Linked DNA regions of Homo sapiens. The protein of the gene in region 2 interacts with the protein of the main gene of each other region in a pairwise test. Each region holds a gene or a part of one and is shown on either strand. Other genes may lie near its edges.

What was found. Proteins that work in one complex are often made in the same cells at the same time.
Region 1: the proteins of MNAT1 (region 2) and TRIM26 interact in a two-hybrid assay, tested with the Homo sapiens proteins (one large-scale study listed by BioGRID and IntAct).
Region 3: the proteins of MNAT1 (region 2) and FOXP1 interact in a two-hybrid assay, tested with the Homo sapiens proteins (one large-scale study listed by BioGRID and IntAct).
Region 4: the proteins of MNAT1 (region 2) and TRIM9 interact in a two-hybrid assay, tested with the Homo sapiens proteins (one large-scale study listed by BioGRID and IntAct).

Annotation. Positions count from the first base shown.
Region 1 is NC_000006.12:30,199,907-30,203,406, reverse strand, and holds part of TRIM26 (tripartite motif-containing protein 26), read left to right. Parts: intron 1-2,268; 5' UTR 2,269-2,372; intron 2,373-3,500.
Region 2 is NC_000014.9:60,793,761-60,797,260, forward strand, and holds part of MNAT1 (CDK-activating kinase assembly factor MAT1), read left to right. Parts: intron 1-2,456; coding exon 2,457-2,609; intron 2,610-3,500.
Region 3 is NC_000003.12:71,573,729-71,577,228, forward strand, and holds part of FOXP1 (forkhead box protein P1), read right to left. Parts: intron 1-3,500. UniProt on the Homo sapiens protein: Transcriptional repressor. Can act with CTBP1 to synergistically repress transcription but CTPBP1 is not essential. Plays an important role in the specification and differentiation of lung epithelium.
Region 4 is NC_000014.9:50,980,106-50,983,605, reverse strand, and holds part of TRIM9 (E3 ubiquitin-protein ligase TRIM9), read left to right. Parts: exon of another isoform or gene 1-184; coding exon 185-226; exon of another isoform or gene 227-324; intron 325-640; coding exon 641-664; intron 665-1,106; exon of another isoform or gene 1,107-1,283; intron 1,284-1,502; coding exon 1,503-1,806; intron 1,807-3,500. UniProt on the Homo sapiens protein: E3 ubiquitin-protein ligase which ubiquitinates itself in cooperation with an E2 enzyme UBE2D2/UBC4 and serves as a targeting signal for proteasomal degradation.

The DNA of each region.
Region 1 (3,500 bases), on a different chromosome or scaffold from region 2:
AATAAGAAGTATAGGCATTCTCATACATAACCTCAGTAAATACCATTAAGAAAATAATTTTAGACATGGTGCAGTTGCTCATGCCTATAATCCCAGCACTTTGGGAGGCTGAGGTGGGAGGATGGCTTGAGCCTAGGAGTTTGAGACCAGCCTGGGCAATATAGTGGCAACTCTTCTCTACAAAAACCTTTAAAAATTAGCCAAGTGTGGTAGTATGCACCTGTTGTTGCAGCAACTCGGGAGCCTGAGATGAGAAGATTGCTTGAGCCAGGGAGGCCGAGGTTGCAGTGAGCCCAGATAGTTCCACTGCACTCTGGGGGACAGAGTAAGACCCTGTCTCAAAAAAAAAAAAAAAAAAAAGAAAGAGAGGAAATAATTTTTTAATATGATCTAACACCCAGCCTACTTACAAATTTCCCACAATAGTTCCAAGACTATTTTTATAACCTTTTTTTTCTTTTTACAGGATCCAATCAAGGTTCACGTATTGCATTTGGTTATTATTTCTCTTTAGTCTGTAAAAATCAAAAGCAGTTCTTTCGAAGGTTTTTTTTTATGACATTGACTTTTTAAAAGACTAGGCCAGTTGCCATGTGCAATGTCCAGCATTCTGGATTTATCTGGTTCTTTCCTTATGGTGTGGTTTAATTCCTCCATCGGTACTTTTTCAGTTATAACATACTTCAGAGTATTCCTTTCCTTTATATTTTTTATAAACTGGAAGTTAGATCTAAAGTCTTGACTAGATTCATTCAAGTCAAACATTTTTGGCACAAACACTTCATAGGTAATGTTGTGTGATTCATATAGTGCCATGCCAGAAAGCACATGCCACTTTGCCCCGTCTGCTGATGACGCTGGATTTGGTCACTTAGTTAAGATAACCACTGGATCTCTTCCTTATGAAGGTATGTCAGGAAGTAATCCATTCATTGGTGCTTTGGCACCATGGGTACTATCTCATCCCCCAAAACTTTTCACCTAATAGTTTTAGCATCTATTGATGATCCTTGTGCTATTATAATGGCAGTCGCAAAATGATTTTCTAATTCTGTTATCCCTCTTCTACTTATTTGCTGATTAATCTTACAGAAGGTTATTCTTCTGTAATCCCCAGACAATTTTAGGTATCTAGTACATATGCAATAATTTTTAGACAGTTTCAGGAGGTTTAGAGACCATCAAACCCCAGCATGGAGCCTGGGTGATGAGGTGTCCTGTTTTGCATGGAAGAAGAGCTGTAGCTGAGCTCTTCATAGTCCTTTTATTGTTCTTATTTTGCAAGTAAATTGCAAAATAAGTTCCCAACCCAAAGATAACACAGGCTATCCTTCAACAAAGAAAAACCTCAGCTTTTAAACTTCTAGGCCATTTGGCAAAGAGGCATGATAAAGGGCTTGAAAGCCCACAGACACGCCCAGTACCACTCCTTTTTCCTCTTTCCAAACACTTGCAGTATGTTACAACTGAAAAACTGCTGAGCCAGGCTTATTTCCTCAACAGTAAAGCCAAGGAGTTGGACCAGGCAATTCCTAGCATTTCTTTCTTTTTTTTTTTTTGAGATGGAGTCTCACTCTGTCACCCAGGCTGGAGTGCAATGGCACGATCTCGGCTCACTGCAACCTCTGCCTCCCGGGTTGAGGTGATTGATTCTCCTGCCTCAGCCTCCTGAGTAGCTGGGACTACAGGTGCATGCTACCACACCTGGATAATTTTTGTATTTTTAGTAGAGATGGGGTTTCACCGTGTTAGCCAGGATGGTCTCAATCTCCTGACATTGTGATTCACCTGCCTCGGCCTCCCAAAGTGTTGGGATTACAGGTGTGAGCCACCGTGCCCGGCCAATTCCTAGCATTTCTACCAGCATTACTAACATGTAGGAACTTGATATTACTTTCACTTGACAGTTAAATTCCTTGAATCCTTCATTTGAGCTTTGAAGGTGCTTGATTTTCCCCTCATTATGTCTCTTAAAGTCACACATACCTAGATCCATTAGTGCTTCCAGTTGGAATTTATTATCAGCACTATAAGAATCTCTTATATTTATGTAGTCCTTTTACGTTATAAAACACTTTTTATGTATTATTGTACTAGACCCTCAATGAGTGGACGTTATATCCCTGTTTTGTTTACTCTTGGGTCTTATAGACTGGGGGTTTTATTTCTGTCCCATTAATGTCACTACTGACAGAGGCCACTGAACTCTGTTGTGATGGACTTTCACCATACATAATCATTAATAGTATTGATTTGCCTGTAATTCAGGTTGCTTCATTCCAGCCTCGCAGTCACCTCTGTGCCCTGCTGGTTGTCTTCCCAGCGCTGCTGTAGTTGCCTTCCATGGATCTATAGGAGAGCAAGTCCTCCAGGTACTGCCCTGTGACGATGTTGTTGAACTCTGTAGCACGTGTGTCACTGTGGCTGGTTCTGCTCACTTCCTCTTTTGCTGCCACTTTTGAATTTAACTCTTTGTTTGTGGTTTGGACACTCACTGGATTTGGAAACCAGGGGTTGTGGGTTCTCTCCTAGATTTCCGTCTGTGTACCAGGCTTGTGCTTAGCACTTTTCCCATAATTCTTTCACATGACCTGCTTAGAAACCCTTAAAGGTAAGTATCACTCTTCCCATTTTACAGATGGATACACTGAGGCTCAGTACTTAAGTGACTTCTGTATTGTCACACAGAGTCAGGGGCAGGAGGCTGCTCTTGGGTTAGATGTGCTGAGGCTCATAACCTCAGCCTGGAACTGGGTCAGGACTACAAAGGTAAACAGAAGCAGAGTCCTTTCTGTGTGTCCCCGCTCCCTGTACAAGCCAAGGCCTCACAGCACATAGCAGCCACAGCCACCTGAGGATTCCTGCCATCTAGACGAGGCAGTTACAGCCAAGAACAAGTCCACTGAGGCTAAGCTGTGCTCCTCTGGAGGGCTGTGTTTAGAGTCCAGCCTTCTAGGGGAAGCAAATTAAACCCAAACTATAGAACAGCCCAGGGAAATACTCACAAAGGGAAATGCTGACAGTCAGACTCCTGAAGCTTCCTGATGCTTCTCGAGTTTTGGTAAAGAACCTCAGTGCTGTTTGTTTGTTTGTTTTTTAATGTTTTCTGGTTTTTTGTTTGTTTTGAGACAGTCTCTTATTCTGTTGCCCAGTCTGGAGTGTAGTAGTACAATCATGGCTCACTGTAGCCTCCACCTCCCAGATTCAAGTAATCCTTCTGCCACAGCCTCCTCAGTAGCTGAGACTACAGATGCATGCTACTACACTGGGGTATTTTAAAAAATTTTTAAATTTTTTTAGTTGAGACAGGGTCTCACTATGTTGCTGAGGCTGGTTTCAAACTCCTCGGTTCAAGTGATCCTCCTGCCTCAGCCACCCAAAGTGTTGGATTTACAGGGTGAGCCATGTCACATTGCCCTCTCTTAGTTCTTGAAACCTGAAACCTTGAGGAGCAAACAAAAGGGGTCTCTTGGCCAGGTGCAGTGGCTCACGCCTGTAAT
Region 2 (3,500 bases):
TAGCATATTACCCGTGGGAAGTGAGATACAGAACACAATGAAGTAGAACTTTGAGTTATTTTTCTATATAATTCTATATTTTATAAGCTTTAAAGAAAAAATATTCTTTTCACAGTTAAAATTAGAAATGGAAAATGTTACGTAGGAAAATAAACTGCAATAAAAAATTTTAATACTATTTAAATTATTATGACAAGGCAGATTATAAAAAGTGGAGATGTACAACTGATTTTGGAAACAATATATTATGTCTAATATACAATATAACGTTTAGAAATATTAATGTTCTATATTACCTTGCTGACTAAACTATTGATTGAGTCTAATCTCCAAGACCTTGAGATATATTAATGTTATTTGTGGCTCTGTAATTTTGACTATTTTGGATAGATGCTTACTTATAAATATCTTTAGTTAGTATAGTTGTAAAGTTTGCCTGTTTTCACCTTCCATGGATGGGTTTAATTTCCTCTAACCACAAAGAATAGTGAAAATGCACCACTCTGAAACTTCCTAAGTCCAGAGTGGTTTATCTGGGGTTTAGTTGATCTTGCTAATGACACTATGATCTTTGGAATTTTTCCCTGTTATTTTTTAGTGACACTATTAAGATAGAAATATAGGCCAGGAGTGGTGGCTCATGCCTATAATCCCAGAACCTTGGGAGGTCAAGGCAGGAGGATCGCTTGAGCCCAGGAGTTCGAGACCAGCCTGAGCAACATGGGGAGTCCCAGTCTCTACAAAAAAATAAAAAAATTAGCAGAGCGTGACAGTGTGTGCTTGTTATCCCAGCTACTGAGGAGCCTGATGTAGGACGATTGCCTGAATCTGGGAGGGCAAGGCTGCAGAGAGCTGTGACAACTTCACTGCATTCTCAAAAAAAAAAAAAAAAAAAAAAAAATATATATATATATATATAAAATAGGTATATATATACATATGTGTGTATATATATGTCTGTGTGTGTATGTATATATTTAAAGATCAATGTTAGTATTTTACTAATAACCTTAAAAATTCTTATTTTTCTTATTACTTTTCTTATTTAGCTTATTCTGTAAGTTAAATACACACTTGGAAGAAATCAACTCTTCCCTATTCATTAGAATTTCTCTTTTTCCCTTTGTCTTGTATTCATTTTTTTGTTTTGTGAAGTTTACTTAGTGAGTACTTAGCGTTAGGCACTGCGGATAGAGAACAAGATAGGCAACATTCTGTCTTTATGAAATATACTGTACTTCCTTGTCTAGGAGACAGAACACAGAAATAAATAAGATGATGTCAGATATTGCCAACAAAAGGAGTGATTAGGACTGTGTGGTCCTAACACATATGGAATTGGGCAAGATTACACCTGGAGGACTACAAATGTTTAAATATTTATCAAAACATTCGAATATTTAAAAGTTATAAATCAAGCCACATCCTTGGCCCAGCCTGATTTCCTACACAGCATGTTGAGTTGCCAGCAGCCTATACCCTCAAGACTCAGAGGCTAAAGGAACTGCTCTCTCCTCCCATCCATCTTTGTAACCTGCCTGACTGAGTGGTAGTATGGATCTGTTGGGGTAGGGCAGGGATGATTGGGGTGGTACCTAGACCCATCTAAAACAGTATATTAACAGATCCCACCAAGTCCCCAGGAATCTGGTTATAGAGAGGTTTGCCTCTCCAGTTCATTGTTTTTTCAACTCAAGTCTTCTAGGAAGTTGTAAGCCCTTCTTAATGTTGCACTACCAGAAAAGGGGATGCAGGTATCTGGGAAACCTGGCTTGCCTGGGAATTCGGTTTGCTTTATTTGGGGCAACGAACTTTAACCGAATAAAGCTTTTATAAGCAGCCACTCTTTCTGGGATTTCTCATGGCAGAAGTTGTGTTCATTTTCTCCCTCACACATACTGGAGCGCTCAAAGTTCTTTATCCTCTGGCCAGTGAGGCCTCATTCAGCTAGCACCTCTTTCTTGTAATTGTCATTTGCTCAGTTGATTACTGAACTTTCAAAAGACATTCTTACAAGGAAAGGAAGAAAAAAACATCTGTTTTAGTGCTTGGGGTATATAGGGCTCTCTAAAGAGCAGGCCCCTGGCAGAGGCTTCTCTTGCCCAGGTCTATGGATGATATTGGGACTGGGGATGGAGGTGACCATACAGTAGCCTTTTACATGCTCTTTGACTTCTCCCTATCCTGCTCTTCTTCCTAGTCTCTCACTCAATTTGTTTTAATTTATAAATTTGTTTGATCTGTAAAACTAAACTGGTATCACTTGGGATACCTATATCTGAAAAGTAAGCTCCAAATGAAAAAGAACATTTTCCAGAAAGTTTTTTGGTAAGATTTTAAATAGAAGTGACTAGTTTTCAAGTCTCACTCTCCTTATCCCATAGGGGCAAACTATTCAGATGTGTTGTAGATTTGAACATTGGCTTAAATGTTATGTTTTATTTCTGTCCTTACAGCTGTGAAAGTTGTGTAGATTTACTGTTTGTGAGAGGAGCTGGAAACTGCCCTGAGTGTGGTACTCCACTCAGAAAGAGCAACTTCAGGGTACAACTCTTTGAAGATCCCACTGTTGACAAGGAGGTTGAGATCAGGAAAAAAGTGCTAAAGATGTAAGTATTCCTGCTCGAATGATTCAGTCAACAAAGAGGACTTTAACAATTATGTCAGTAATTGATTATTATTTGCTCATAAATGTGGACAGATTAGCAAGTAAATAACTATAAATTCATTTAAGTTCTTAGAGAACTGAGTAATATTATTTATCTTTGTTAAAGAAGAGCCTCTTGATTGATGGCTTCATTATTCATTTGTATTTATTCTTTGATTAATAAACATGTATTGAGTACCTACTATGTATTGAGTACCTACTATGTGTAAACACTACTATGTGTAAACATGTTATGCATGTTAAGCAGTAGTTATGAAGTGATGAGTAAAACAGCTATGAACTCTGTCCTCATGAGACTTACCATACAGTAGCATAGGATAGCAAAAAGACAAAAAAACAAGTAAACCAAAACAAATGTTATTTATTATAGATTGAGAATAGTGCTATATAGTTAGTGACTCAGTGTTGCTGTGGTCAATGATGTCAGGTGTGGGCAGAGGAGGTAACATTAAGTTGAAGTTTGAAGGCTATTAGAGAAAATTACGTGTTAGCTATAGTTTATTTTGGTATGTGTATTTTTGTGTATATAGATATACACACATGGGCATAGTAAATATATGTGTGTATATATGTATATATATACCTATATATTATTAATCTGTCTTTTTCATTTACAATTTAGGCTTTACTCTTTACTCTTTGTTAATAGTTTTGGGTTTCCTTTTATCTGTTATTATGAGAAATAATTGATATGTTTATTTTTATTTTTGGTGGTATACATTTCAACCCAGGTAACCAGTGTTTTAGCAGCATCTTTCTAGGTACATAACCAATAATACTTTATCAATCCGCCTAGCGGCTCTTTTATTGTTTGTATAACTTCTGCAAGGTA
Region 3 (3,500 bases), on a different chromosome or scaffold from region 2:
TTATGGACATAGATGTTATCTGAAGATGCCCCACCCCTCCTTCCCAAGGCTCAATCAACTAGCTTCTTTCCAAATAATTAAATGGGGCAAACTTTCTATTAGAAAATATCTACCATACATCACTAAAAAAAGGTCTGTCATTGATTCCCTAATGAAATATCAGTTAATTACTTAACCTTTCTTAATGAAATGATTAACATTTCAACAAACAAGGCGGAATGACTTCGCATCAAGCTGTAGATTACCAGTGACAGTGGTAACTATGTGTCCTCTACCATTGCGCCGTCTATTCTTTCAATCAGCTCCATGTTTCATCTTTTATAGAAATTCTTTATGCAGTAGTAGAGACACTCTACTTTTAAAATTTGGCCCATAAGAGTTTTTTTTAAGTGCCTCAGGGTCAGAACAGAAATTTTAAAAGTTTTTATTAGACGAATATCCCCAATGCTACCTAAACCTACAGAAAAGCAAACTGTGAAGTTCTAAACGTAAAAACAATTGCCAACTTTTTGGCAGCTATTAAAATAAAGCCACACCTAAAGCCAAAATGGAAATTAAAAATTAGGTGTGGGCATTATGGACACATTATTACCGGGTAACTTCAAAAGCCACATTATTAATACAGATGAAAAAATGTCTCAACAACTTTTATTTAAATAACTCTTTTGATCTTAGTGGTTAGATCTTTAGTTGAAGCCCTGAATATTTAAATAAGCCTCCTTAACATTTTATCTTCCTTTATTTCATAATCTTGTAGGATGCCTTCTTCTTAGGATTCTGGTTTCTTTATTTGTGTGGCATCGTTGGCTAGGCTATTTCCATCAATATTCGTGCATGCCCCATCACATACGATAGAGAATTTCCCAAGATGCTTGGGAAAATCAAAATACTTCTGCCAGCAGGGTTAATCCAAAGAGCAAACAGTTACAATTTTAAAATTAAGATGGAATACTCAGAAAAAAAAATTCTAGAGAGTCATCTGACACTAATTGGTAGCTACAGCATGACAACACCCATTGGGAAACATGGATGCAGGCAAGACAAAATTCAAAAGGAAATTATCTGATATTGACATTTGGTGAAAACCACCGATGTTCCAGGTTGTTCCTATCACGTTATTGAACTGTGAGGCTCTTGTTCTGCCTCTGTTTCTCTAAGTCTCCAAGGTTTCTTTTTGTGCCCTCCTGAAAAAGGAGCTCCGTTTTCTTCTCTTAGGTTTCACAATGGCCAACCAATTCAATTAAACTCTTAAGAAGGGTTGCAGGCTTTCCTCCAACTCTGATAATTGACAGGTCCAGTTTTCCCACTTTGGTGGGCATCAGGACCATGTGGGATGCGATTTAAAAACACAGATGCTGGCCCCACCCCAGATACGGCACATCCAGGAGTCGTGCAACTGTGTCTGTGTTGGGAACAACAGCTCTGCTGTGATTCCAATACTCGTGCTTGGTTAAAAACCACCGTTTTTCATTCGTAATAAAAATCCAAATACATTAAAAACAACACAGGATGGGCCTCAAGGTAAAATCAAAGAAATCATCAGTAAAATCCAAGTGAAGATAGAGATTTCAGTTCCACACATCTGAAAGAATAAATCACTTGATTCACAGGTCTCTAGCATGCATCAGAATTATCAAGGGAAGTTTGTTATAAATGTACGTTACCATGTCAATCAGCAAAAATTCTGACTCAAGGATCTGTATTTTAATAACCTACACACACACACATACACACACACACACACAGATACAGAGGTAGGTGAGCGAGGACCTCACTTTGAACCAGGCTGAATTAGGACCAACTGCAACCTCCCTTCACTTCAGACATGAGCATTCACTTCCATCTCTGTGCTCACCCCCAGGAGGGGAAGCCACCAGTGCCACTGGTCATCAGGAGGTAGGCACCAGGGCAAAAGAAACTCAAGCAAAACTCACATCACACCCTCCCCCAACAAAAGCTGCGGTCACTGTCCTGAGAGCACCAAGAATATCTTTTAAAAATGTGAGTAATAACAAAGCCCTGTATCATTGGATCCCTAAGCTCAAAGAACATATGTTAAAATATTACCCCTAATTCAAAAGCAGGGAACCTGGAGCAGAGAAAGTCACATTATGACTCAATTGCACAGCTGGGAGGGAGAAAGGACACCTCGGAAATTCAGTTTGATGCTAGAAATATTCTTCAGTGTCCTAGTAAACAAAGTGAATCACAAAATTAGCTAAAATCAGAGCATCTGGTAAAATGTGGATGTCCACCTGACTTACAAGTAATAAATAAATATATGTCCAAACATAAAACTCAGAGAAAATGTTTGTCCTAAGCAAATCTATTCTATTGAACATAAACAAGGCCCAATAATCCCACATTCAGATCCATTTTTCCCTCAGTAAATTGTCCTATAACATGCTAGCCTCTGATATCTTCAAACTGTTGAAATCAAACAGAATGACATGGGCTTTCTATTCAATGATCCCATTTCAGCTATTTATCTGAATTAGCAGCAGTTTGAGGAAATACACTCATCACAACATGATTCTGAGTATAGAGAAGTAAATAGTAAACAGAACACTGGAACACAACTGTGTATGTATTCATATTCCTTTTTAAAAAAAAAACTATTTTATTAAAAATACAATTTGGAAGGAAAGTGCAATTAGCTTTGCACAGGCACTGCTGAGATGTTCCCGAACACAGCAGACATATGTAAATATTTCGTGATATCAGTTCCATTTGAGTAGACCTGTCAAGATATTTACAGGGCTTGACAGTACTTCTGTCTTTAATTAAATTTTTGCCCAGATACTTTAATATAATTTAAATAGATTATTAGTTGTCAGAATCGAATATAAATTTTGTTTACGATTTAGTTACTTTAAGTACTCAGACTGAAGGAACTAATTTAACCCTACAACTGAGCAGCTTTAAGCATCAAGGCCAAACCACTAGAAAGCTCCCACTGCCCTTTGCACTCTACCAATAACCTTAAATTATTACAACTGAATTGTAAATTTCATGGCACTAAACTGAGCCCCCCTCCCCTCCTTTTGAAATAAAACAGCTTGGGGAGGGTCATGAGGAAACACCCATTTACACCTGTTCAGGTACTAGGTAGGTTCTCCCTTTCAGGCACTCGTTCTCACAGCGGCTGGCTAGATAGGAAACATTTTTTTCTCACTCTAAGTCCCATAAAATAACTACCGAACAAACACCTGTTGTGTACAAGGCAGGGCATGTATTAAAGACTGGCATCAGGGCATTGCAAAAAGAAAAACAAGCCTTGCAGAGACATCCACAAGCCAATCTGGTCAATAGATTTCACGACTGGGTAAAACAACAGTGCGTGCGAAGAACACAGCTTCTGGCACAACCTTCTTGTGAATGGCAGCTGACTTCTAAACAAGGATTGAAAAATGCCTTAGCACAAACTGACTGTAATTAATAAGAATAATTTATTAAAGAAACAAAGAACACTGTCTAATTGTCTTTCCTGACTGCCATGC
Region 4 (3,500 bases), 9.8 Mb from region 2:
CATTTTGAAAGAGCAGAGGGGCAGTTTTTTACCCAACAAACTAAATAATATAAAAAGGGCTTTGTTTTTTCATGGATCAGGCCTCTGGTATCTATATTCAACTGGTGCTTTTTAAGCGTATACAAGTAATTTTTATCAACCTGGTTGTTGTTTCATAGCGTTGATGTGTAGTATCTCTTTATAGGATGCAATTTTGAGACACAATCTGCACCTTACTCTCAATTAGGCAAGTATACCTATTGTAATTATCTTTTACTTACGTGATTGGTGTGCTCAATTTCCTTCACAAAATAAATGGCGGCAACTTGTCTTATGTCAATAAAATTGTCTAATTGTCATTCTAACCCTATTATAGCAGTTTCTCAAACTCTTAAAAAATGGAAAAGATGCCTGTAGTGTTTAATGTTATGCCTCAAACCTTACTTTTCCCCCAGTTTTCTTTTACATCAGTGCAAAGCACTCTTTATGAGCACTAAATGTGGGTAAAGGTACAAGTCAGAGAGCACCTGTTTAGTATATGTGGCATTTTAAATTGAGTCCTTTTGGGGTACTAGTCTATCAAGAGAGACACATTTTCTTATCCATGTCAATTTTGCTTCCTATCTCTCTCCCCCATGCCTTTCACTTGGAATGACAACAGTTGACATTAAAAAGCTGTTGGCAGGTATGGAATAACCTTATTCTGTTACCAAATAGCAAAGACCAAAGTGCATGTGAGGTGTCTCACAGGTTTAATAAATCAGCAATTACATCTCTCGAGTGTGATATTTATAGGTGGCATTTAGAACTTGGGGCGTAACAATGCGTACAAAGACATCATTCTATCTGCACCTAATGTCCGAAATTCCTACTGCTCCAGCAAAATTTCTGACGTGTTAGTTTCAGGAGTAGCACGCAAACTGTGTTTTTTAAGTTATGCAGACAGCAACCTGTCCTACATGCAAGTCACAATCACTCATGAAAATTAGTTTATGTTGCTTATAGCTTCGCAGCTTGTGAGCTTTCACTAGAGCCGAGGAAGACTTCAAAGCGACTAGATGTTAGCACTTCTGCCGAAGGGATATTTCCTGATTTCACTCCATGTGTTTTATCCCTCCTCCATCTAGGACTCTAGCTCCTAGCCTCCCCGCCTCAGGGGTTACACAGGCATCTTAGCGCATCCCCTCTCCCTTTATGTCTCTGGTGCACTGTTCTGCCAGTCACCAGGTGAAGGGACTTGCACCTTCCAAAATCGATGCCACTTCACTCCCGGATCACCTGGTTGGGAGTGCAGTCTGAGCCAGGTAACCCCTGCTGAATCGGTCGTGTGTCCTCCGTCTGCTTCTGGTGCAGAGAGTACCAACTCCCAGGACGTGCCCCTGTCTGCCCTGGCCCTGGACGCCTCCTTCCTGCATGGCAGCATGAAAACGCTACACAACGCTCCTCACCCGCCCAGGAGTATGTTATGGTGCTGAGCTTGTTGGGTCTGTCTTAATAACCTGATTCCCTTCTGTTGTTCCCAGTGGCCTGGTTTGCTTTCGACCCTGGCTCGGCGCACTCGGACATCATCCTCTCCAATGACAACCTGACAGTGACCTGTAGTAGCTATGATGACCGGGTGGTGCTAGGGAAGACTGGCTTCTCCAAGGGCATCCACTACTGGGAGCTCACGGTAGATCGCTATGACAACCACCCTGATCCTGCCTTTGGTGTGGCTCGCATGGACGTGATGAAGGATGTGATGTTAGGAAAAGACGACAAAGCTTGGGCAATGTATGTGGACAATAACCGGAGCTGGTTCATGCACAACAACTCGCACACCAACAGGTACCCTGCAGCCCCCAAACCAAGCCTTCTTCACGTTGGCTTCTGATCAGGAGTGAGAGCCCCAGTTCAAAAACCTATTACATAGACCACATTCAGGAAATCAAACAGGTGGTCTACATTAAGTAGCACAGGCAATCTATGAGCCTCAGCTGAGTCCATGCTGGTGGTTTACTTTCTATATAATGATAGAGACTTGAGTACTTTCCTACTCCCTTCATTGCTGTATTTCACCCATGGCTGGAAACTAAGAATCCCAATGGATATCCATTATAAGAAAACAATCCAGGATGCTGAAACACCCAGACCTACAACTTAACAGAAAAGCACTTTTGGGCAAGTTACTTCGTTTTTTGAACCTCAGTTTCCAAATCCATCAAATTAGTACAATAAAATTTTTCCTTGTGGGAATCTTCTGAAGATTAAATGAAATATGTGAAAATGCCTTACATTGGAAGCACCTGAAAATAGTAGCCATTCTTCTTATTACGATTCATTAAACTAAAGCTTATGGATGCCAATTTGAATGGCTTTCTACTTATAGAGAACTCTCTTATTACTGTATTAATCCAGAGCAGCCAGTTTGCTAAGGAAAGGAAATACAGTAATCTCCTTGAGGTTTTCTTCTACCACCAAAATATAGATCATTATAATTGAACACATACTATAATGGATTTCCTTTCTCATTTGATTGTGTTCCTCAAATGTATTTTTCACAAATTTCCTAGGCAGAGAAATTTCTACTGTGGACCCTGGTCCACCTTATGCTCCAAGATTTCCCCAGGATACATTCTCATTAGTGTCTCTGAAAAAAAAAAAAAATACAGTAGTGTTCAACCAGATCAAAGGGAAAGCAAGTCAGACATTGGTAGGATAATTGGACCCCACTGTTTTATCTTTTTCTGTATGCTCATCACTGACCCTTCTCCAGCCTGTAGACTCCTAAAGCCTCCTTTTCCCTTGGATAGCTTCTATAGCATTCAAGTGTGTATTATTCGCTGTCACTTGAAGTGAACACACACACCATTTCACCATGAAAGCAAATCCTACTGGATGTAGATAAGTGGTTATCTTCAGTGATCGGCATTTTGTGGAACTCTCTGTCAATAGATTCTCAGTGCTATCACCCAAATGCCACACTTACTTTTTCCCTTTTAGCGTCTTTGTTTTGAAGTGCAGGAGTGAATAATGACATAACCATCACACTATGCAGAGAAACACATTCTTAATGCTGAACACATCTGCTTGCATGCAACCTGCATGTCACTTGTGCTTTCATTGTTAAACCTGTGAAGTAGCAAGAGGCAATTTGTAAACCTGTCTTTTAATGACTATGTACAGTCTGTATCCTGCATGCAAGAGGAAATGAATGACACAAATTCCTGTGCTCTGCTGAGATGAGGACGAAGTTCAATATTGCTAGATCTCAAAAAAATGGGAAAGACAAATCTGATCGTCCATTTTTAATGGCATTTTGTGAAACCATCAATTGAAGCATAAGACACAATTCTTTGTAAAATGGCATTTGTATGCAGGTTCTTTAAAATCACTACATCTCAGAGTATAATTATTTCACTGTACAGAGAAGAAGCCTCTTCTTCAGTGCTGTCATTTCACAGACAGCCTCCAAGTTCTTAATTCAAATGCAACAAGCCAAAAAACTGCTATCCTTCTGGAATGAGTTTTTCTGTTTAATG